Linked DNA regions of Homo sapiens: regions 1 and 3 are each reported to be linked to region 2. Evidence: microRNA targets listed by miRTarBase, many of them from high-throughput screens and not tested one by one. Region 2 holds a microRNA gene; each other region holds the end of a gene's coding sequence.

The links. Region 2 holds the annotated microRNA hsa-miR-6502-5p (AGCUCUAGAAAGAUUGUUGACC, at 2,511-2,532, opposite strand). A microRNA usually pairs through its seed, bases 2 to 8, with sites in the 3' UTR of a target mRNA and lowers its output. Matches are read on the target gene's strand: a 7mer-m8 pairs with bases 2 to 8, a 7mer-A1 pairs with bases 2 to 7 and ends in A, and an 8mer does both.
Region 1: miRTarBase lists STRN as a target of hsa-miR-6502-5p. The part of its 3' UTR that is shown has no 7-base or 8-base seed match.
Region 3: the mRNA of SCD5 is a reported target of hsa-miR-6502-5p. Seed matches in the 3' UTR shown: 7mer-A1 at 1,783-1,789.

What each region holds. Positions count from the first base shown.
Region 1 is chr2:36,846,099-36,850,098 of GRCh38, reverse strand. It overlaps STRN (striatin), which reads left to right. Exons shown (of 18, transcript NM_003162.4): 17 at 299-385; 18 at 474-4,000. The coding sequence ends at 643. Among named protein-coding and RNA genes, the nearest start is that of STRN, 120 kb to the left of the region's middle.
Region 2 is chr12:66,249,288-66,253,622 of GRCh38, reverse strand. It overlaps MIR6502 (microRNA 6502), which reads right to left and starts at 2,541; the gene lies at 2,466-2,541. It overlaps IRAK3 (interleukin 1 receptor associated kinase 3), which reads right to left. Exons shown (of 12, transcript NM_007199.3): 12 at 1-4,335.
Region 3 is chr4:82,627,550-82,631,549 of GRCh38, reverse strand. It overlaps SCD5 (stearoyl-CoA desaturase 5), which reads left to right. Exons shown (of 5, transcript NM_001037582.3): 5 at 33-2,011. The coding sequence ends at 223. Among named protein-coding and RNA genes, the nearest start is that of LINC00575, 8.1 kb to the right of the region's middle.

The sequences.
Region 1 (4,000 bases), not on the chromosome of region 2:
ATGTCTAAGTTCTAATTAACAAACGTGGCTTAAGGGTTGCGTGTAGAAATTACTGACTTCCATATCGTGGCTTAAAAGACAAAAGTGTAATCTAAAATTTGAGCTTTTTTTGGTTTTCCATATCATTGCCATGACTAGAGGCAAGAGGGAGACATGTTGTTTTAGGTGATGGAAAAAGCTATTAATACAGTAAGCACACAGAGAGGGATGACTGGAGAAACCAGCAGGACATGGTAGCTGGCAAATATTGAAGATGAGGAAAGGCATTAATAAGGAGTAACAATCTCTTTTTCCAAAGGCAAACTGATCCACTCGATGGTAGCCCACCTAGAAGCTGTTACAAGTTTAGCAGTTGATCCCAATGGCCTTTACTTGATGTCTGGCAGTAAGTACCTCAACTATGGATTATTTATTTGTCCTTACCATTTTCATGTTAATGTAATTTTTCCTTTTAATTTTTTTTTTGGATATAGGTCATGACTGTTCAATACGTTTATGGAATCTAGAAAGTAAGACGTGTATCCAAGAATTCACAGCTCATCGAAAAAAGTTTGAAGAATCGATTCATGATGTAGCTTTCCACCCATCCAAATGCTATATAGCCAGTGCTGGAGCTGACGCACTGGCTAAAGTCTTTGTATGACGCAATGCATCATCTTCACCTTCTAGCTGTTTATAAGTAATCAACTGCACACAAGAGATACAGAAGACGAGGGCAAGAATCATCTCGTCCTGCCCTTTTGTTCTGCTGAAGGAGCACAGAGAACATTTGTTGAAGTATAGTTTTGCAATTCATATACTGTTTTCTAAAACTAAGGTTTGTTCAGGTTGCTGCAAGCTCAGCTGAATCTGTGAGCCTGAGGTCTGTTTCAAATTTCTCCCCAATAGGCGCCTTTATTTCTGAGGTGGTTCTAATTCGCTAGGCAGGCCTGAGCGAATACAAGTTTAGCTTGTCCCTGTTGAGTAAGTAGGGCATGCTACAATGGATAATTTAAAAGCTTGATAGCTGGGACTGAATAGAAGAAAACGGGAAACTTAGACCAAGTTCTCCCCTGAGAAATCTTGTTAAAACACATTAAGTAGTCAAAATAGTAATCTTTATCATATCTGCCATATTAACCCCTTTGTGTATAATGACCAGGCAGTGTTAAACTGAGTTTTTAATTTGACTCTCCTTTCAGCTGTTCACATAAAGCACCTGGCAAAGCATTTTACCTGTTAGGGGGAGAAAAATGCAATAATATGTTAAATATATTATTATTCAGAAATGCTAGACAAATAGTTTGCAAGCAGATTTCTATATTGTATTACAGTTTTGAAAACAGATTTGGTATCATTCTAAAGTTTAGCTATCAAGCACTCACCATTGTGAAGAATAGTTGATCGACTCTGCTTTTACTAACAGATTTAACTTATTCAGGTTTGAAATTCTGTTTATTTTTAAGGGTAAACAGGGCATATCTCTTTAATAATTTCTATTTTAAAATTCACTTTATTCATGTGACATTTATAGTACCAGAGTGATTATTTCATACCAATGAAATCTTACTTTTCAGTGACTGAAAAGATAGAATTTATTTGCTAATAATCATTTATCAACACCCACCTAATCATGCTTCAGATGATCTGTGCTCTTTCTTCTTTGTCACGTTCAAGTTATCTGACATCTACCAAGAACAGTTCATAATTATTAATAGCCCAAAGAGTATGGTTAACTTCACGCAGCTGCTTTTGCAGAAGCACTAATAAAAACAAATATTTTGTACCCTAGAAGTCCTCTATTAATCCCTGTAAGAATCTCCTGGAAACCTGGATGAAAGAGTTTAATGCCAAATATTGGCTAAAAAGTTCTGTCTTTCTCTCTCCCTATTCCTCCCCCATTGTTTAATTGAGATATACATGTTTTAATGGGCAGTGGATCAGTATTGTTTCTGGGGAAATCCACACCTTAAAAGGCCAGGCTTCCCCAGCCCAACTTACCTGTGACCCACCTACATGTGTTCACCTTTTGGGATTCTGAAGACCCTGCTATCTAGACCTAGTCTCCTGTCATAAAGACATTATTTCTATAGTGGTTTATGTCTCTCTTACTCTTTGTCCCAAATGACAGAGACCAATCTAGAAATTGGAAATAAATTATTAACGTCCAACTTTCCACCAAAAAACATATAAATAGGCTCTTAGATTTTAAAAATATTAAATCTATAGATATTTTAACCAATTAAAACAATTTCTACATATTCCATTCCCCACATTTTCCATCGTCATAACAATGATGCTTCTCATGATACGTACATCTACTCCTTGAAAAAGTATTCTGGTGGTGGTGTGGCTAATGATTGACAAATATTTCTGTAAAATTTCTGCCTGTTTGCCTCTAGAATTCTGCATTATACAGGCAAATTTTCTTTAAAGCTAGAGACTTGTGCTAAATTTGCCTGATTTTCATACAGATATGCTGTAGTAATACAGCTACCTTTTCATTTCATCTTTGTGCTTTGGTTAACAAGCAGGCTCAAGAGACTGCTTTGTGTAATTAAATGAATTGACCTAAACATGAGCTGTCAGGTGAATACTTAATATTTCCATGCAGATACAGAATTCCATATTGTGTTCAGTAAATTTCTTTTGGTTCTTCACAGTGAAGAAAGAATGTTTCTAACCTAACATTTGTAGAAGGATACTGGAAAATTCCTTCCAGGAAGGAAGGAAGGAAGATGCCATTACTTGGTGTATTTATGATGGATGACCACAAAGCTATTGTTCTACCAGTTATTAATTACCTTCTAAGATCTTCAGTTACTGCTTTATTAATGTCACTGAAATTCTAAAAACCAGGACATTCTTCCCCCGTTCATTTTATGCTTCATGGTTGAAATTTTTCTGTCAGTGAGTGGAAAATAACCATGAGATACATAGACTGTAGCGCAAATGGAACTGTTGAAAGTTCCTTAGAAAGCCAGTGCTGTGGCATTGGAGACTACGGAGAGAGTCTTCTCTACCAGCACTGCATGATCTCAGCCTAGAAATGAGCCAAAGCTGTCTTCCAACCAGAGTAGCATATACATGTGTCTGACTTTTCCCCTAGCCTGTTGAACATTCAATGAAAATTCACAGAATGAACAAATTCAATGTTTAAACAGCCATTGAAATGCTTTCATAGTGCTTCATTTGTAAATATTTTGTTTGAAATGTATTGGAATAGTATGAAAATTAGCGGGAGGTTTGGATCCCTGCCTTATTTTCATATGCTGTGGATACATCTCTGGGAGCTTGCAGCACCCTTCTCAAAACTCAACTGTCATATGGAGCTCATTTGCTACTCAAACCATAGACAGATTATTTAACAAAAGTGATATAATGACCTTCAGTATTTTTCTATTGAACAAGTTTAACAACTTTTGCCATTAAACAAATACTTAGTTATGCAAAATATTTCGCTTTTATAATCATTTTAGTTATGACTAAAACGGGGGAAATTGAGCTGCATCACTGATGATGAACTTTGTGAGAAATTTTTTTTTTAATCTGACTTTCATTCCTTCAGTATTCTTGCTATAAATTTCTTTTGGAGATAATGATGAAGATTTATTTGAAAATGTCTAAAATGTATGTATATTTTATAAATATATATTATATATATTGTAAGAATATATATAATATATAAACTATATATATATATATATATATATATATATATATATATATATAAACCATAGGTGCATTTTACTGTTTTGTATTTTCATTTTTGGAGGTAGTATACACAGCAGATAATGATGAGTATGATGAGTGTTGTGCTGTTTGCTTTTGCAGTATAATATATAGTTCTAAGTGTTTAAATTACTGTATATACAATATTCATTATAGGCTAGCATGCTTGTTTTAAAGACTGTCATTCTAGTGTATTAAAATCTGAATGTAAGAAAACCTGGCTATTCAAATGTGAATTGAAAAATATTTTATTCTCAGTACTGAACTATTTCCATTGAACATTCAGACT
Region 2 (4,335 bases):
TGTAAATATTATCTTGCTATTTATAGAGACGACCAGAAAAGTTTGCAATGATGCAGATGACATCCATAATGAGTCTCTTAAATGAAGGTTTGGCAGGCAATACAGGTCTTTTGAATAAAAATGTCTCCCAGGAAAATACTTGCAAGTCAAGCCCACAGACCATCAAGTATATATAAATGATTTGGAACGGGAAGACAGATACAAAACACAACAAACATCAGTTTATTTCCTGCCAGAACACTGGTTTTTCATTGCTTAGACATGGTTTGGGAATATTTTCCACCATAGAGAAAATTTATAAGCAACACATACAACGACTAATCTTCTTTTCGAAGATATCTCAGATATTAGTATTTAAAATTAGTAGCTTTTATTCAAGAATGATGAAATGGAATAATTTAAGCAATGATTGATTATATTCTGAATACTAGAAAGATAAACTTCGGGTGCAATCTAGATGACAATCTTGATTCTGAAGATGCTTTGAAGGACTATTTGATTCATTCATTTTACAAATATTTGTTGAACCATATTATGCACCAGGTACTGTGCCAGCCATTAGGGATCCAAAAATGAGCAGGACATAGACCTTTCCCTCAGGGAACCTGCAGTTTTGTGGAAGAAGAAATATAATTTAACAGGCAACTCCAGTATCACGTGATAGTGACCTGAGGTTTGTGTAGGTGCCTCAGACCCCCGGAAGATGCCATCAGTATCCAAACAAATGCCCCAAAGAAACCACATACCAATAGAAGAATAGAATCTGTCACAATTGCCAGCCACAAAGCACACCATAAACTACTTAGTGCATATGAATAGCAAAGTGAGGTCCACCATGGGATTATCAGTTACACAACAGGACAAGGAGAAAACCTCTCTGAACCCATTTGGAAGAGCTGGCAGAGGAGCCAGGACCTATGACAGGAGAACCACCCTGAGATTTATTCACTTACATATAAGCTCCATGAGGGCAGTGAGCTTTGCTGGTTTCCATCTGCACTGTAGCCCCAGCTCCTAGAATAGTGCCTGATACAAAGGAAGCCATTGCTAAGTATTTATTCAATGAATGGAAGTTTGGATGGATGGATTCATTTAACTCATATCAAGTAACTGCAGTGGGTGCCTGTAGCAGAGAAGTTGTAGCAGAGGAGTAGGATAGTGATAAAGGCAGGAGACATGGTACCTACTAAAAATCTGTGGAATCAACAAATGACTTTTCACATCCATCCCTTTTCATAGGAGCTTGAACTGGCAGTGACTCCATTGTGCAATTTGGAACACAAGAAAAAGCATGGATTTTGAAGTCAGACAAATGTGAGTTCAAATCCTGGCTCCTCCAGATCTGGAAGGACCTGATGGGAGGACTGGGAGGACTTGATTTTAGCAAGTTAGTTTCCTGACTCAGTGTCCTCACCTTATTATAAGATGGGATCCACACCTTCAGGGTGACTCTAAGGGTTAACCAGAAAAAAACATGCAAAGCTCTAGACCCAGTTCCCTTCACCCTTACCCCATTTTTCTGGCATTAGGGATGGTTGTGCACAGCTGCTGTGGATCCCCAATTCCTTGAATAGCCATCCTGAGTGCTTCGTCAGTGCTCTTTTCTATTTCTCTTAATTCCGTATCTCTTTTCAGAAACCTTCTCCAAGAAGCCTTCTTCATCCTCTCAAAAATGCATAGTAATCTATTCCTTCTTCTCACCCTTTCAGCATTTACTTCGGTTGCATTGGTGTGTGGTTCAAATAACAGATGTCACTGAACTGTTGACTTGGGTAGATGCCCTGTCTTCCTTATTAAACTGTGTCTTACTTTGTACCTTAGTAGCTAATGCAGTGCTTTGATTCTAGCAGATGCTTAATAAATGCTACTCATGATAAACCTCACTTCCTGTACTCATCAGTCCTCAGGTCATTAAAGTTGTTTTACACAGGGTGATGTGCCACCCTATAAAACTACAATATTATGCAGTGAGTCACAGATCATTACAACTCCCAAGAAGTCAATAAAATTGATTATATCAGAAATCCCATACCTGTTTTTAAAAACAACAAAATGTTTTCTCCATGTGTTTGGGCATTATAAAATGGGACAAAAGCCTGAAGCTTAGTAAATAGGATCTGCCTGGAGGATTGCTCAGAGTGCATTACAAAAATGAGAGTAAATGAAATTATGAATTCATGTTTGCTGATCAGAGGGAACACCCGGAGACTCATTCTTGCTTTCTTATGTATCTTGGTCTCCACATCATGAAACTATAAAGGTATCCTCTTATTACCCATAGAAAGTTGCAACATTTAATTCATATCAACTAACGCTTATTAATACACCCACTAGAAGGCAAATCTAGTCAGGAAGACTGAATCACTCAACAGAAGATTTGGTACTTCCCAGCCACAGTGGCATCTGCTTACCACAACGTTAATCAGGTCACTGCCAGCTTATCTGACTTCATCTTTGAGGTGTCCAAAATAGTTATACTCTAGAAAGATGGTCTAGTCAATAAGATGATTGGTCAACAATCTTTCTAGAGCTCCCACTCTGTGCTAACCAACATCCTATGTAATAGGATGAATATAACAGAATGAAAAGAAAGGATCCTTTTCTCAAAAAACATACCAGTGATGGAAAGGTAGGATCTACCAATCTATAACAATTTAAGAGCACCTTAAGGCAGCGATTTTCACGGATGTGAAGAGCGGGCTTCACATCATTGGCATCAGCATCACCTGGGAACTCATTAGAAAGCAAAATTTCTAACCCCAGACCTATTGCATCAGAAGCTGGGTGGACCCAGCAATCTGCGTTTTTAACCAGCTTTCCAAGTCATTCTGATGCATACTACAGTTTGAGAAACCCTGCTTTAAGTCAGCTAAGCAAGTTCAAATCAACATAATACCCACAGATTATATGTGCGGAGTAACTGCATGGGCCTGGTGTTAATCAGAGCTTCCTTAATGACCCTTCATTGAATGTATTGGTGGGGGTCCATATTCTAAGTGAAAAACAGTTTAACACAGAGTCAATTCTTGATGATCTCTTTTGTGAATCAGAGAGCTCTGAGCAGCCAGATACCGTACAGAGCAGTGGTGGGCATGGGTTCTCCCAACTGCTTACCGAGGGCCTGTATAAAGCCTGTCAGTCAGACTAAGACTTACTGTGGTTTTAATCTCACTTCGTGCTTTTTTGGAAAATTGTAACTCCATGTTTCTGACCTTGGTCTGTTAATCTCACCCTGATTCCTGATGATTTTCTTCTTTGATTAGTTGTTCTTCAACATGGAATCTAATGTGAATATGATTAACCCAACCATACTGACTCACCAAAAAAATAAAATAAAACAAAAGACATGAGCCTATTCCTCTGCTGGACAAGAAACTAGAGGTTTACCCTTCTATTACAAGCTCCTTGGAGAGGAAAATTCAGTAAATCCTCTGAAAATGGTTTTCTTCAGTGTTTCTATCCATCATCATAAGGAGTCATTATCCTCCCTTTGTTAATTTATTCGGCAATGTTTATTATAGCTGAATTATTGATTATGTGGCTTCATAGGGGTAATTTAATTCAACTTAATTTATAAGGAAACACCTGCTCTGTGTAGGATGACACATTAGGCTCTGAAGAGATGGCCCTTACACACTCAGGGAGTATGACAGACAGAGTAATGGTCCCCCGAAGATGTCCACGTCCCAATTCCAGAAACCTGTGAATATGTTACTTTACACGAGAAAACGGACTTTGCAGGTGTAATTAAATTAAGGATCTGAGACACAGAGATTTTCCTGGCTTATATGAGTGGGCCCAGTGAAATCACAAAGGTCTTTATAAAAGACATGCAGAAGGGCCAGAATGAGAGGAAGAGGGTAGTGAAGAGATGCGGTGAGACAGACAGAGAGAGGGAGATCTGAAATGTCACGTTGCTGGCTTTGAAGACGGAGGAAGAGGCCATGAGCCAAAGAAGGCAGGTGGCCTCTAGAAGCTGGAAAAGGCAAGGCAGTGAGTTCTCCCCAACAGCCTCCAGAAAGAATGCTAAGGAATTCTGACCTCCAGAACTGCAAAATAATTAATTTATGTTACTTTAAGTCACTAAATTTGTGATAATGTGTTACAAAAACAATAGAAAACTAATATAGGGAGTTTACAACCTAGTAAAAGAGATGAAGGCTGGGCGCGGTGGCTCACGCCTGTAATCCCAGCACTTTGGGAGGCCAGGCAGGCGGATCATGAGGTCAGGAGATCGAGACCATCCTGCCTAACATGGTGAAACCCCGTCTCTACTAAAAATACAAAAAATTAGCCGGGCGTAGTGGCGGGCGCCTGTAGTCCCACCTTTACTCG
Region 3 (4,000 bases), not on the chromosome of region 2:
TGAATTATATCAATGCCCGCTTTGTCTTCCAGGTGAAGGCTTCCATAATTACCATCACACCTTTCCCTTTGACTACTCTGCGAGTGAATTTGGCTTAAATTTTAACCCAACCACCTGGTTCATTGATTTCATGTGCTGGCTGGGGCTGGCCACTGACCGCAAACGGGCAACCAAGCCGATGATCGAGGCCCGGAAGGCCAGGACTGGAGACAGCAGTGCTTGAACTTGGAACAGCCATCCCACATGTCTGCCGTTGCAACCTCGGTTCATGGCTTTGGTTACAATAGCTCTCTTGTACATTGGATCGTGGGAGGGGGCAGAGGGTGGGGAAGGAACGAGTCAATGTGGTTTGGGAATGTTTTTGTTTATCTCAAAATAATGTTGAAATACAATTATCAATGAAAAAACTTTCGTTTTTTTTTTTGTTTGTTTTGTTTTTGAGACAGAGTCTCACTCTGTCACCCAGGCTGGAGTGCAGTGGCGCAGTCTCGGCTCACTGCAGCCTCCACCTACCTGGTTCAAGCAATTCTCCTGCCTCAGCCTCCTGAGTAGCTGAGATTACAGGAGCCTGCCACCACACCCAGCTAATTTTTTTGTATTTTTAGTAGAGACAGGGTTTCATCATGTTGGCCAGACTGGCCTCGAATTCCTGACCTCAGGCAATCCACCCGCCTCGGCCTCCCAAAGAGCTGGGATTACAGGCGTGAGCCACCGCACCCTGCCGAAAAAAACTTTTTTTTTTTTGAGACGGAGGCTCGCTCTGTCCCCCAGGCTGGAGTGCAGTGGCGAGATCTCAGCTCACTGCAAGCTCCGCCTCCCGGGTTCACGCCATTCTCCTGCCTCAGCCTCCCGAGTAGCTGGGAGCCAGCGCGCCCAGCCTAAAAAACTTTTCAAGTCAATATTACTACGATTTAACATTAGAGTGTGGACATGTGATTTAATCGCTATAGCTAAAATACGTCAAATATACGTTGTCATGTGCTTGAACATGATGCTAACCCTGACAGGATGAAGGAAAGTAATATTCTTTCAGTGTAGTTCAGGAGAGCATTTGTTTTCTTTTCTACCAATTAACCCATCATTGCTTTTAAACAACCATCTGAAGGAGCAGAGAGGCAGGGTAGAAGACAGAAGGGGGATCTATGTGGTAACTAAAGAATGTTTCTGTTTTGTTAATTATTGTGTGTGTGTGGTTTTATTGTTTGCTTAAGAGAATCAAAAACTGAAAAAAATGAGAATACAGGAAATGGCTCTTGTTTATTTTTTTGCTGTGTTTACAGCTTGTTAATGCTCTACTGTCTTTGTTTCAAGAGAGATTTGTTCACTGCCCAGCTCGTTTTGTGTCCTGAGCCCTATGGCCAGCCCACCTTATAAATCATGCCTGTTTAGATGTTTGATTTTGTTCTGTTTGCTATTGTTATCTTAAAGGTGTATAACTCTGACATGCCAGACATCAAATTAAGCTCAAATTAAGCTCTCGTTTAAATGTTTAAGCACCTAATTTATATTCTAATTGATCCCAGCCACTGATGCATGTACTTTAGCTACTTCTGCTAAATAAGCATATTAATTTTCCACATCAGACCATCAGATCTTGAGAACCAACAGTTATCTAGAATTCCGTGTCTACTAATGTTTCACCTGCATGCAGCCTTCATTAATTTTGTAGCAAAATATAAAGTGATCATTATGTAGCTTCTGGATTAAAAAAATTTGTGTGTGAAGTTGCTTTGTAAAGTGCATGTGGAATTAATGGGACAGTGTGCCCTTTGTGTTAGATGTTAGAGCAAAAGAAAGGGCTTATAGTGTTAGTATTGGAGCACTTTGAAGATAGATATTTTCAGAAAAGATGTAGGATTTAAAAGTTAAATTTTAAATTTTAGAAAAAGATATGATGGCAATTGGAAATAGTCACAATGAAGTTCTTCATCCAGTAGGTGTTTAACAGTGTTATTTTGCCACTGGTAATGTGTAAACTGTGAGTGATTTACAATAAATGATTATGAATTCATTGGTGTTCTTGTCCAGATACTTCAGTGCTGTTTAGAGAATGTTCTTTCCAGAGTGCTTGGTGCCTCATGATGATTGTATGACTCACATTGGGATTTGGGCTCTGGGCTAACAACAGCCCCTGAGACCAGCCCCTGAGACCAGGCCTGTCCTATCCTATCGGCCTTAGGCAACAGCCAGAGGAAGCCAGCAAGTTTTATTTGGAATGTAGAACTCCCAGTGGTATTGTTCCCTGATTCTCACTCACCAGCAGCCACTGGGAGTGCTTATAGATGATAATTGGGAATCTACTCCTATATGTCACCCAAAGGAGCATGAAGGACACCTTCCCCTCTCCAGGCCCCACCAATAGTTACCAGAGGTGGGGGAGATGGACTCCTGTTTTCACTCTAGTCCTGCCTCTCTCAACCTCACCTCTGCACCACCAAAGTCTCCACCCATCTTTTGCCCCAAAGCAGCTGTGGCTGTACTGTCAGGTAGAAGCTTCTTAACGTGTCTGCAGTTGAGTGGGATTCTAGCCATTGATGGGTACCAGGCTAGATCACATCATGTAAGGACCCTTTGGATGTGACCGTAGCATTTTTCAGCTGCTTCATATCCCAGTCACACATTGCTAAGACCTTGTATAGAGCGCAGGTGGAGGGTAGTCACATTCCAAGATAAGTTTGTATCAGCATGATGTGAAATGGCCCTTAATTGGGAATGTATATGTGAACCTTTGACTCCTAAAAGTACTAAACTTACTTACTTGTCCATTAGTCAAAAAGATGACATTTGGAACAGCTATTTGGAATCTTTTTACAAAAGGAGGGTATTTCCCAGCTAGACCAAATAAATCTAGAATCTCCTTCCTCTGAACCTGAGTGCCATCTTTTTTTCTGCAGCAGAGCCATGAATGACCTCGGATTGGAATGATTTGGAGGAAGAGTTGGACAAAGGTTAGATTGCACTAGTGTCTTCCCTGTTAACATTCCTTTCAGGTCTCAGCAGCATCTTAACAGAAAGTAGCTCTGGGAGTTATTTCCCAAACCTATCCAAGGTGGCCTTAGACTGATACATTGTTTGAAAGTTTCAGTTTAAGATAAAAAAATGGTCCCCCCATGTCCAGTCTTTAATCTCCTCATCCTCACAAGGCTTATTTCAGAAGCACCCACCCCTGCATCTAGGTGAAGGGAGCCCAGGGAAAGCAATTCCAATAGCATGTGTCCCACAGGCGTCATGGCAGAGTCATGGAGCCAGCCTGGGACAGTGGAGCCAACTCAAGTTCACCTCGAGTCCCCAACTCTGCTACTGGCCAGCTCTGTGGCCTTGAGAAACGTCAGCCTTTCTGGATTCAGTTTCCTTCTCTGAAAAGAGAGGACTCTTCTCTAAGGTCCCCTTCAGCCCTAACATTCGACCACAGCAACAGAGATGAGTCGGGCGTGTTCTCATATGCCTGACTTCAAATTCGAAACACCTCTCAAGTTAGCACTCATCCTTTCTGGACATAGAAGGTCAAAAATTGGGAGTGGGAGGGAGTAAGTGAATCTGAATGGGAGAACACAGACTGAGGCTGGAAGGATAGAATGTTCTTGGTTTTAAAAAATCTGCATATATTTTGTGCATTCCTAAAATGCAATAAAGCAATTAAATATAACCCATCATGAAAAACAATTTAATGAGAGAAATTATTACAGAAAGCTCTACAGCTTAATGGGGTAGTAGAAATAGCACTGGACTTGGAGTCCTGAGACCTGGATTTGAACTCTAACTCTTGATCTGACTGGCTGTGTTACCTGGGACTCAGGTTAAGGCTGAAATATGACATATGAAATTGTCATTTACTAGCCTGCGGAGCCTCTCTGAGCCTCAGTGTCCTTGTCTACACGACAGGAAGAGCAACATTTATGTGTATTAGATGAATCTGGAAGCCTCATCCCAGTGCCTGGGGCATTGCAGAGCCCTGGGAGACATCAGTTGAGGGTGAGTAGCATGCCCCACACACAAGCCA